Homo sapiens: one gene and its partner. The protein of the gene in region 2 purifies or fractionates together with the protein of the main gene of each other region. This does not show direct contact. Each region holds a gene or a part of one and is shown on either strand. Other genes may lie near its edges.

The links.
Region 1: the proteins of ZNF202 (region 2) and ZMYM3 purify together in Homo sapiens (affinity purification with mass spectrometry; 2 studies listed by BioGRID and IntAct, with this or other methods). This does not show direct contact.

What each region holds. Positions count from the first base shown.
Region 1 is NC_000023.11:71,239,094-71,244,395, forward strand, and holds the end of ZMYM3 (zinc finger MYM-type protein 3), read right to left. Parts: coding exon 5,209-5,302; intron 4,888-5,208; coding exon 4,736-4,887; intron 3,992-4,735; coding exon 3,877-3,991; intron 3,332-3,876; coding exon 3,077-3,331; intron 2,252-3,076; coding exon 2,134-2,251; intron 2,016-2,133; coding exon 1,823-2,015; 3' UTR 531-1,822; downstream 1-530. UniProt on the Homo sapiens protein: Plays a role in the regulation of cell morphology and cytoskeletal organization.
Region 2 is NC_000011.10:123,724,559-123,731,843, forward strand, and holds part of ZNF202 (zinc finger protein 202), read right to left. Parts: intron 7,114-7,285; exon of another isoform or gene 6,841-7,113; intron 6,428-6,840; 5' UTR 6,331-6,427; coding exon 5,929-6,330; intron 5,268-5,928; coding exon 5,057-5,267; intron 4,657-5,056; coding exon 4,568-4,656; intron 3,705-4,567; coding exon 3,575-3,704; intron 3,038-3,574; coding exon 2,918-3,037; intron 2,434-2,917; coding exon 1,439-2,433; 3' UTR 1-1,438. UniProt on the Homo sapiens protein: Transcriptional repressor that binds to elements found predominantly in genes that participate in lipid metabolism.

The DNA of each region.
Region 1 (5,302 bases), on a different chromosome or scaffold from region 2:
GCCCAGGCTAGTCTTGAACTCCTGGGTTCAAGGAATCCTCCCACCTTGGCCTCCCAAAGTACTGGGATTACAGACGCAAGCCACTGCACCCAGCCTCCCTGTAAACCTGAAGTGAGTTATTTATTCCTCTGTCCTCCCATAGCACTATTCATTTTATTCTGCCTGTATTATGACTAATTGTGTACTATTTGGTCTCCCCTATAGCCTGGGAGCCTGCTGGGGATTGGATCCTGGTCTAACCAGTCTTTTTGTATTTTTTGAAGCACGTAATCTAGGTCTTTAAACATAATAGGTCCTTAATACATAGCTAGTGAGTGAGTATTTTTTTTTCCTTAAGTGTTTGGAAACTTGTTATAAAAAAAAAACAAAAACAAAAACAAAAAAAACAAAAAAAACACCACATTCCCAGTAGATCCAAAGTAAGACAGTAAAGTAAGAACGATTCTCAAACACCTGACTTGTTTACACTTGGAGAGATTTGAAGTTATCCAGTGTTGCTCCTCTATATCCATCACCCAGAAAAGACAAAAGACAATTTTAACTCTTTATTTGAAACAAACAATTTCAGAGACAGAAGGTTAGTCGTGACAACAGCTTCTCACTACAACACAAGGGTGGGCATGGCTCACTGAAGGGACAGGCCAGGCGCCTCAGAACAATATATACAATTTAAACAGTGGCTAACTGGTGACAGTTATAAAAACACAAAAAGGAGCCTGGGAAACAGCAAAGTCAACAGGGAAAGAAGTGGGTACCCCCTTTGCCAGAAGCTAATTGTTTTCTGGGACCTCCAATGCAAGATGGGGAAGAGAGAAGATGTAGGCAGTGGCGGCAGGCCCTGCGCCCACAGCTCCTCGCCTGTCCTTTGACCACAGATCCCATCCTGCATGACTCAAGGTCCCATAGGCTTGGCCTAGCTCTTATGATAGGGGAACAATAGAGGGGAACCCAGCCTCAACCCAAGTCAGAAGGTAGTTTTTGCCTTGGGAGGTCTGTCCATTGAACTAAAGGGAGGCAGTTACAGAGGGGGCTAAGCATGTTGACACCATGGCTCATGGCAACCTAAGATGGCAGAGAGACAAACACAGAAACCAAGGGGACAGGAGTCTGCACAACAGGAGTCTGCTCCCCGTACTTAGTCATTCTCTGCCTCTGAGGAAAAAAAGGCATTTGGAAGATTTTAAAAACGGCAGCACCAAGGATTGGTGCTTGCCGAGGGGGTGAGGGATATGCGGTGGTGAGATGGTGCCAACAACCAATTATTTCATAGGAGGGGAAGAGTGTCTAAGCTCTGTGTTTTATGTAAATGGTCCCCTCATCGCTTTCATTGTTTATTTCTTACCTTTCAGATAAGACCTTTTGGCATGGTGCTGGGGAAGAGTAGAGAAGGGAGTGGGCACAGGGCAGAGAAGGCAGCTGGGTTTTTCCCTAGGTCATGCCTAGGAACAAGAGGCTCTACCTATGCGGGATGGGTCAGGAAACCCAAAGCCAACAGGATCACCAGAGCTATTAACACTCCACCCAGAGTCTGGACCCAGAAGGAGGGGTTTACTCTGAAGCATAAAGAAAACGGGCAAGCTGGCTTTTGCCCATCACTGGGAGACCAGCCCCTGAGTACAGAAGACCAGGGCCCCATGGTTGTCAAGTGGTACGGAAGAAGATAAAAGCCAGGGTTCCTAGAGAAGGCAGGGAATGGGTGAGCGGAAAGGAGCAGTCAGGGCCCTTCAGAATGAGTAGCATTGGTTCCTGGGCCTGTCACCCTGAGGGACATGGCCACAGGACAGACATTGATGTGAAAGATGGATATGGATGGCACACGAGCTCAGTCCAGGTCTTCCTCCCCAGGACGACCCAGTTCCTCATAAATCTCGCGCACAGCCAGGATGCGATTGAGCATGCTCTCCAACATGCTGCGGTCCATGGGGATCACAGAATACCAGAGAGGTGACTCGGCGATGCAGGACCGTTCAGGTTGCAGGTAGAACACATCGTTGCGAGTCCGGAGGCTTTCAGGACTGCAACATCGGGGGTGGGAGTGGGAGTGGGGGTGGCAGGACAGAAGATCAGTACCAAGGCAAAGTAGATCCCTCGGGTCCCCATGCTAACGCTTTTCCTGCCAACCCACCAACTCACCATTTTGAGAGATAGAATTCATAGAACTTGACAGGGCAGCGGAGGGGATTCATGCGGTTCTCACGCTGCTCTAAGATAGGGGCTTCATCTTCTCTCTTCCGTTTTCCAGGACCCGTGTCTATAGGGGAGGGAAATGATTCAGACTCATTAAGAACACAGGCTCCATGAGCCACATCCAAGAGCACAGTTCAGGGCACAGGGAGAAGGCGTCACGACACAAATTACAGTCTCATCAAGATGGAGAGGTGGAAGAAGAGGTCAGTCTCCCTCTCCCACGCCAACCCAACATCCTGTCGGGCTGTTGTTATGCAACCCTCCCCAGTTCCCACTGCCAAAGACTCTCTTTAAAATCTCCCCCAAGTTGCTATCTTGAAGAGGTGATCTCAGAAGTTATTCAAAAGACCTGATAAAACAGACCCTACTGCAAGGGTGGGCTTGCCTTCTGGGATAGAGAAACAGCAATGACCCCAACCCCTTGTGCATTAGTCCAGGTAGAAGCATGGGTCCAGAGAAAGGACCTTGGAAACTTCACTCAGACAGGACAGAAGTCCAGGGACAGAAAAAATGGAAACCAAGGTGCAGTTGTTGTTAGACCCGATAGCAAAGAATCACAGAAAGCCTGTCATTCTACCCTCCCCGACAGCCAAACACACCCAATGGTTTCCTACCTGTCCACCACCCAGAAAAAGCAGGCAAGCAAGTAAACTGTCTTAAATGAGGAAAGAGGGGAAACAGGCCAGAGGGTGACCTCTTATTTATGCAACAGCTACTGCCTATCAGGTAGGAGGACTGGCTGTTTCTACCCTTTCTGCACACAGGAACAGGAGAGGGAAGCTAGGCGCCAAGGAGAGGGCCGACCTGGCAGGTATGGTGGGTTATGGCAGGGCATGGAAGGGGAAGGCAGAGAAGGGGCAAAAGCACAGGGGAGGGGGCAGCCTCGTACCTCGCCCTTTCCTCTGGCGGACTGGGGCATAGTAGCGGATGCTCACCACCTTGGTGGTGCCCCGAGGGGTGGTACACTTGCGGGACTGCCGCACCACATTGGTGAAGGAGAGTTGCATGTGTTCCTCAGCTGTCTGCAGCCCAAAAAACTTAGTGTTGAAGAACATGAGGGTGTTGAGGAGGACAAAGGGCGAGTAGACCCCCAGTTGCTTACACTCCCAGAGGTGCTCCTCCTCCACTCGAGAGAACACCGTATCTACAATGGTCAAGGGGGAGAGGCCAGTCAGGAGGGAGTGGCTACCCAAACCCAACCACTTCCCATCCCATGTGCCCTGCTCATTTCCCACACAATTCTCATTTGGTGAGTAACCTTTGTATATAAAACACTGTCACTTCGCTACACTTGCTACACTACACAGTGGGACTGGGCTTTAAAAAATATATACTTTCCACACCTGCATTTGGAACGCCTCTCACCACCCTCAAGTTGTAGACAAGTAAATGTAAACCTTGAGGAGTCCCACGATTTCTTGCTTTCTTTCTTTACTTACCACCCAAACCCAGGCCATCTTTTTCTGGTCCTAGAGATAGCTCTTCAGACCTAAGTCTTGATCCCCATCTCACGTTCAAGAACAGGCGCTCCTGTGCTCCTTTAACTCTAAACCCTGAGGCATCCAGCTACACGCTCCTGCCCTCGGGCCCTTTGTGAAGAGTGGCAGACCAAACAGCACAGGACTCTCGGGATGGTGGATTGGAAGAATGGAGAAAGCGGGTAGGGGTTGCTACGTCCCTGTTCCTTACTGTTGGGGAGGAGTGTGGGCTGCCAGGTACTCAGAGACTTGTTGAGTTCTTGAACAAAAGTCAGGTAGTAAAGGTCCGTGAAAATGTTCACCATCCGGTTATTTTCCAGCAAGTACTGGGGAAAGAAAAACAGACACACCTAAGGCTAGACTGTAGGTCCTAGAAGAAAGATAATGATGCTGAAGCCCCCAGGTATGGTGTCCTTGATCATTAGGAGACGATGGGAAACAGTTGCTTGATTAGGTGGCCTCGAGTGCTTTCCCCCAGGTATACCCACAGCTCTGCGCTACTCAGGCTTTGCTCGAAGAGGAGGAGGCTTGGAGGAGATGTTCTTTAGAAGCCCACACCTCCTTCTCAGGTAATACATGGTTGACTTCTCCCAGGGGGAACTAAACATTACCCCAGCACTCAAGGATCCCAGCTCCACCCATCCCTCCCCTCCTAGAATGGGCTTAAAGATTACAAAGGGGACCTGGATAGCAATGAAGACTGCTCCTTGGCCAACGGTCCTGGAATGCAGTTTTGATTTTAGAAGAGTATTGATATCTCATGTTCTATTTGGAGTAGGAGATTAAAGGCAAGCTGCCTGCTTCAGGTAGGGGACAAGATGAGGAACAGGGAGTGCAACAGAATAACTGCTTTTTTTTTTCATTAAAAAAATATTTTTTGGGTAGATGGGTATCACTTTGTTGCCCAGGCTGGTCTCAAACTCCTGGCTTGAAGCGATCCTCCTGCCTCAGCCTCCCAAAGTGTTGGGATTACAGGCGTGAGCCACCGTGCCTAACCCAGAATCATTTCTGTTTAGACCCTGCCTGCTGTGTTAAGAGTGACAGGAAGTGAGGTGGTGCACAAGAGGTACCTGCTGGATGCCAAGACACAAATAGTAGATACTGTCAGGTTCATATCGTTCACCATTGGGCCGAGTGATTTCTCTCACAAACTGGGCCAGACCGTAGTTGAGCTCAGCAGCTGAGCAGGCGAGAATATCCTCTTTGATACGCATGGGTTTGGCTGCAGTGATATGTTGTGCAGGGACAGGATTAAGAAAAACTCTACATGGAGAATTTCACTTAGCTCCATCACCATTAACCCCTCCATCCCTTAGTCATGCCTAGCTCCTGAACAATTACAGAAAGAGCCCCTAACCTGGAACCTAGACAGCATTTCCCTTTAATCTACAACTCCTCCCCATCTTCACAGGGCATCCTTAAGGGATCACACCCTTATCACTTCTAGACATCTTCAGCTGAATCACAGGCCCAGCCCCTTCTCCCCTTTCCCCTCCTCCTCCCTGTCCCTGCCTCCCCACACCCCCCATCCCCAAGTACTTACGGCCAAAGCGCAGCTCATCACCCTTGCTGGTTTCTCCATTGGCATATTTTGACTGCACCCAGCACTTCCAAGCATTGACACCATATGAATAGTT
Region 2 (7,285 bases):
CTCTCCCTGTCATGCTTTAACCCCATACCCTGTGCTCCACTTATGGAGGACGTCTCCCCAGTTCTTGCCACTCCCACAATCAGAGAAGGTGAGGTTCATAATTATTCAGCCTCATCTCCAAGGAACCTTTAACTGGCAACAGAGATTGTTGGGCCATCATGAGATGCTACTTTCTAGCTCTATGAACATAAAATCACGTAAGAAAAAGCAAACAACACAAATACATGAAAGCCATTTACTCCTGGTGAATTCCTCAGGGTCCCAGGTTCAACACTTTCCGTGATGTCAGAGTACTCAGTCAGGGATGATGGGGACAGGGTGTCAGAACAGTCTTGATGGTCTTGCCAGCAACAGCTTTTTCTTATTTTCCATAATTTGGTCTTAGTCGTTCTCCAGTTGTCTTCATGTAAATAAAGTGGCCCATGGCAATCATGATTCTGTAATTGTTATAGTGCCTTTGTAAGTTGACAGTTTCCAAATCCCCTTACTCATACGACCCCTGTGAAGGGGGGTGTGAAGGGGTTGGTGGGCTTGTGCATATGAGGGAATGTGAACGATTTCATTATGACCGAATTATGCTTTACTCAATAAGCACTCAAACACTACCATCTCACTTGTAGTAGAAGTGCTAGGGATGCAACCAAGAGACTGGTTGAATAACGGGAAGGTTAAATGCATGAGTATTTTAATAGAAAAAAATATTAAAAACAAAACCAAAACTCGTATGGAAAGAGGCTTCTGACTAGGCCCTCCTTTCTAGCAGTGTTTGGCACCTGATAACAATTTGACGCTGGGGGAGGGAGCAGCTTGACAAGGTCCACATGAAGCAGCCTTGAGATTTTTCGCCCACTTCCATTTCTCCTCAGCATCAAAGGAAAGTGCATGGTAAGAAGTGAATCAGACAGCGAGGGATCTATGCAGTTATCCTGTGAATGTGTGGCAAAGCCATCAGGACGCAAACCTCCTGTCTTGAGTCCAGAGCTGTGTGCTTTAAGATTTGACCCCAGTAAAGACAGAATCCTTCAGGCTCGTCCCTTCCCAAACCTAAGGGGCTGTCCTTGGCCACTTTCAACTTGAAGCTGTTGAGCAGTCTTTAGGATATGTAACAGCCTATTTTTTGGACGATATAGGAACCACGACCTCTTAAGTCTCTTAGTTCTCCTACTTTATACCCATGAGGTAGAGGCAGGTGCACTCCAGTGAAGGAGAAGCCTCAATTCAGGTTGTACTTTGGATGAAACATCCCCTCAAGGCGTAGAGGAAGGCTGAGAGGTTCTGCCCAGGCTCGTGTTTAGTTGCAGGAAGAGGTAATGTCAGATCTGAGCAGGTCAGGGAGACTCCCTCGAAAAGGTCTTCCCAGGCTGACAAGAGGGCTTTTCCTCTTCCTCACCTCCCTTAGGTGAGGGCTGAAAGCAGATCTCCTCACATGGGGACCTAGCTAGGAGGTCTTTTCTGAGTGGGTCCTCTGATGCCTAATTAAGTGATATCCTCTGCTGAAGCTTTTTCCACAGGTAGGGCACGTGAATGGTTTCTCCCCAGTGTGTGTTCTCTGATGCCTGACGAGGTGGTCCCTGCGACTGAAGCTCTTCCCACATTCGTTGCATCGGCAGGGCCTCACTGAGGCGTGTCCTCTCAAGTGCTTGGCGAACGCTGCGCTGTGGGTGAAGCAGCGCCCGCACTCGCTGCAGAGGTAGAGTTCCTCAGCAGCGTGCGTCTTCCGGTGCGCCAGGTACCGCCTGTGTTCACTGAAGTCCTCACCACACTCTCCACACAAGTAGGGTTTGCCTCCCAGGTGGATTCTTTGGTGTGTTGTTAACACAGATTTCTGGCTGAAGCTTTTGCCACAAATAGTACAAAAGAAGGGTTTTTCTCCAGTATGTGTCCTCTGATGTCTGACAAGGTCTGAAGTCCAGCGGAAGTGCTTTCCGCAATCATCACATCTATAGGGTTTCTCCACTGATGGAGTTCTCTCAGCCTGTGTCACAGGGGAGGTCTCTTCCAAATTCTTCCGGTTTAGGGGATATTTGTAAGGCGCGTTCATCTTGTGAACCTTTTGGTGCCTGGCAAGATGTGAGCTTCGTGTGTAACTTTTTCCACATTCCATACATTTATAGGGTTTCTCTCCTGTGTGAGTCCTCAGGTGTCTAACAAGGTGGGAGTTACAAGTGAAGCTCTTTCCACACACAGAACAGTCATGATGCCTCCCTAACAGGGGGTGGACGGGTGTAGTTTCCCGAAGGTTCACAAAACTATTCACTTGAGAAATATTAGTACCAAATCTTCTTTCATTAAGTCTACCTGGATTGTCCTCAAAGACTATTTCCCAATCTGGAGTCTGGTGAATTTCTGGTTCTCCCAAAACAGGCCTGTGTATATCCTCCAAACTCAGATCTTCCTGCTCCAGACACTCTTCCTCATCTTTACTCCTATCTCCTGTAGAAAGGGTGAGAGGAAAAAGGGGGTCACTGTAGCGGCAACAATGCCTTCTACACAATGGGGAGATTTTTACAAAGGGTTTTGAGATGGCAAGACTAAATAGAATGCCTGTCCTGTGCCAAGCACTTTCTCATATTGTTATGCTATCAACAAACCTTGGTATGCACAAATATAATCTTCATTTTACAAATGCAGAGATTGAGAATCGAGGGTTTAAGGGAATTGTACAGTAAATGGTATAGCTGCAATTCCAAAAGTTAACATTTTTCTTTCACCCTTTTGTATTACATTGCTATCAGACAAATGATGGGAGGAGAAAAGAGGAGGGCAATGACAGAAGAAATGGCTGTCAGAGGGAGAAAGCAGTACTGGCTGACATGTTAGAAGAACTGATGAGAGCGGGGCCCTACAGAGAGAGAGAAGCACTGCCTAGAGGAACTGCTGGCTCAGGGTGGGTAACACCGTTTTTGTCATTCCTCACCTGTGTAGGTAAAACTCAGGATTTCTGGCTCTTGAGTCTCCTGAGGCTCTTGGATATCTGGGACCCAAGGCTCTTCCTCTCTAACCTGGGAGATCTCATCAGGTCTGGGGATTGGAAATGCTGCTCAAGAGAGGGAAAATAGGATATCACGATTGGCTCAACAATTCCCTGTGTTAAGAGCGGTCCTTTTCTATTTGGTAGGTTGTGGGGCAAATACATAGCTAGCTCAGGTGATGAAATCTTTCATCTCTTTAGTTTGTGTACTTTTAACCAAGGACTGCGTATCTCTTGCCTTTCTTGTGGTTTTCACCTGCAACTTAATAATTATACCATTGTACACCTTATCCTCTTTTCCCATATTCAAGAAAGATTATCTCCAACTCTTACTGTTTTAAAACTCATGTGCTTACTTCAAATATTTCTGCACTAAAGCTGTCATATTACAAGTTTGTTTTCCTATTAGAGGTTTCCATTTCCATCCATTTATCTTTTACTTGAAAGGACACCATATTTTTCACCTAATCCCTCAATTTTATTGGTGGGGAAGGCATAAGAGAAGTTCACTGCATACAATCTAAGGTCTAAGATCCCCCAAAATTTCCAGCAGGAAAAAGATCTCTGGGCTTAGAACACTCTAGAATACTTGAAATTCCTTACACAGAGAGACAACAATTCCACAGTCTTCTTCCAAGACATATTCTCCATAGAACTCTTTCTGTGTTGGGTCCAGATCACTCCACTGGTCCTGGGAAAAGCATACGGCCACATCCTTGAACGTTACCAGTCCCTGAAACCACATAAGGATTTCATCAAAACGTGATGCTACGGGTAGCCTCGTATTTTGTCCCTGTTGAAGGTCATACAATAGGTGGACTCCTCTAGGAGATGAAAGGAGCTTGAGTGGCGGGCTGCTTAAACTCATTCTCGGGGGAGCCATGTGTCCCCTGTGGCACTGGCCCTGCCCCCTCCAACTCCACCACTTTTCCTGAGGACCAGCTTATGTTCTTCTTCTTTAAGGTATTGTTTAAAATTTAGGAAAGGTCTTAAAAATCATCATTCAGCTCCCTACTTGACACTTTAACGCTATATACATTTCTGCAAAATTCATCTTTTCTAGTACACTTTCCCTAAAGACTCTAATCACTTTCAATAGTTTCTATACTCTATAGCCAAAACAAGACTTTTTTCCTCAGTTAGATTACAATCTAAAACCATACATGAATTCTATTTCTTTTTCTCCAGCCACATGGCTTAGTTTCAGAGCTTTGATCATGGTGAATACTTCCTAAATGTCTCAGCAGTACAGTCTGTCATACTTACAAATGACTATCAAATTTATTCCTTTAAAAAAAAAAAAAACTAAAAAACCCTCATTTGACAACTTCGCAGTTGTACTGGAGTGTTACAAAATAATCCCATTTTGTTAGTTCTTCTAGTCAATGGCAAATAAACTGGTGTTGGTGCCTGTGGATCCAATATAAGGTATGATAATTTATCTCATTATCTCCTCCCCTTCCAGGTACCTGCAGAACTGTGAGCTTAAAACTGGCAAGAGTGTAAATGTGCATCCTGCTTCACCTGTTTAGTATGGCTTATGCCCAGTGGTTCTTCAAACAAATTCTCTGTGGTACAGAGGTAACTAGGGCACACCTGTGACAGAGCAGTAAGAAGAGCAACCATCTCTGAGTCTCCAGAGCTCCTCTCTGCAGGAAGGTCTGGGTCCTCGGGCACTGGGACCTCTATGAAGAAAAGAAGGCAAAGATCAGTAATATGCAGCATGCCCCAATAATGGGCAAAAATCTGGGCATCCCCCACCATCTTTGGTAGGAAGGTGGCCCTATCCTTTCTATTATGGGAACCAAGAAACTGGCCTAAGGGTAGCTCCCATATCCCAATCCCATCACCTATGAGACTATCAGAATGCCAAGAGAACAAGCAACAATCTGCTGTCTAAGCTTGGCCCTGTTTATGGGGGACTCTAGCTGGCGGTACTGTCTCCTCTTGACATCCTGGATTCTGTGATGTCTTTCCATACAGTCTATCTACCCAGCTTCCTTGGTATAGGAGAAATGTCCGAGAAATGTCCCCCTCCTTGCCTGCCTTCTGCCACAATCCCCCCTTTCTGCTGATGCTTCCCACCGCTCTCCTGCAGGGTCTGGAGCTCCTCTTCCTGGTGTGGACGCTGCTCTGCCGGTGCCCCCAGATCTGGGCTCTGTGTGGTTTCCTCAGGAGACTGCTCGGGGGTCGAGCTTTGCACAGGATCCTGCAGCTCATTAGGTGACTCAGGCTCCACTCCTAAATGCACCGTCTCCTCTGACAGGACTTCCTGGCCGTGAACATGGACAGTCACCTGGGAATAATTCCAACTTCCAGTCACCATGGAGTCAGGAGGAAGTTCTTGGTTGTCACGGGAGCTTATTTTAGGAGAAGATGCCTAGAGAAAACACTCCCAGAGGGACCCAGACAAGGAGGGGAAACTCCAGTTTCAATGGAGCAGGCAAGGAGGAGCTGAAGGTTATCCTCCCCAGGACAAGGCAGGGGATGCGCAGGCCTGCACTGCTCTCTCACCACCCCCAGCCTGGGCCCCTGTCACCCAAGGTTCCTTCCCATCTCCACCTGTCCCACCTGCAGCTCTCCTTGCTGCCTGCTTCCCTAGCTGACCAGCCAGGAAGGGGGATCTGTGACTGGGGATCTATGAGAACCTTCGAGGAAGTCACAAAATTCTCCTCTCCAGGAACCCACGGCTCAACATTCAAAGAAGGGAAAACCAAAGCCATGACCCTTTGGTGGCTGAGACCCCTCAGATGGTCCCTATACAGGTGTTCCAATATCCAGAAAGTCACATTCATACACACACATCCCCCTAATCCATGGGGCTCATGGTATATGAGCAACCCAAGGGCAGAGCCCACTAATAATTTATGGGGATCCTGCAAGCTCTCCCCGCAAATCCAGCCTTCCAGCAAATAGTCCCCCTCCACATCACACAGATCAGGACTCCCCCTCCTCACCCACCGCCTTGGTCTCCTGGGTTGTTTCTGCAAACCCTCCACCAGCGTCACTGCCTCCTCGCCACTTTCTGGCCGTTGGCCCCGCACCCAGCTCTGTAGTTCTCCAGGTAGGACGGTAAGAAATTGTTCCAGCACAAGCAGCTCTAGGATCTGCTCCTTTGTCCGCCTCTCTGGTCTCAGCCACTGGTGACAAAGTTCTCGGAGTCTGATGAGAGCTTCTCTAGGGCTTGCTGCCTCCTGGTAGCGGAAGCGTCGGAAGTTCTGGTGGGAGGTTTCCAGCACCGGGTCATCCCTCTGTAAGACAGACTCTGGCCGACAGGTGAAATCATCTTCCAGTTTCACCATCAGAATTCCCTCTTCTTCCCAAAGATCCTGGTCCTCTGGTTCCACGGCTGTAGCCATTTCTTGGCTTTGGGGTGGTCTCACACCATCTAGAGCTCACACTGTCATTAGCCCCCCGCCTCAGCCTGGACACAGCGAGGATTTTCTTCCAAGGGCCCTGGATAGAGAAGTAAAGACAAACAAGAGTATAAGCATGAAACTATACACAAGGACAACAGCCTGAGTTCAATCATAATCCTCTACACAAACTTCTTCAAATGGTTAAATCCTCTTTTCCCCAACCACCATAGCCATAAATCAACAGATCCAGTTGGGAGAGGATAATTTACAACTAAAGGTATGGTCCTCTACTCCCTTTCCTAGGCAAGGTTCATACTCTGCAAGAAAATACTGCATTTCCACTTCACAAATACTGCCAATTCCCCCGCTTAAGTCTCCAAACCGGTTCCCTTCTCTTCCTTCCTACAGACTGCTTTAGTTTGAGCCTTCATCATCTCCTGCCTGGACTACTGCTCTAACTTCCTAAGATCCCTGCAGTACTCAACTATAAGCAAAGTACAACAGAATTACCTGTGGAGATTTTGCAAAACATAGTATCACACATCATTTTTCAGACACTCTGATTCAGTCAATTCAGGTAACTGTATGTTTAGAGATGCTACTTGCAGTTCGAATGTGTATCCATGGTTGAGAAACACCAACCATGAGGGAGATGTGTAAGGTTATGAGCGAAAGTTCTGGAGTCAAGCTGCCTGGGTTTGAATCCTGGCTCTGTCGCTTACTAGGTATTTCCAGAGTGGGACCATAGGCAAGTTCTCATTCTCCTAATGCCAGTTTCTCTGTCTATAGAAGGGAGATAATAATGGTTTTTATCTAATAGGCTTACTGTAAGGATTAAATGTATTACTAAAGCCTATGAGCATTAAATGTATTACTATCTTTGCTTAGAAGAGTGATGGCACCAGCTATTATCTTTCTAAATTATAGTTCCAACTATATTACTCAGTATTTTAAA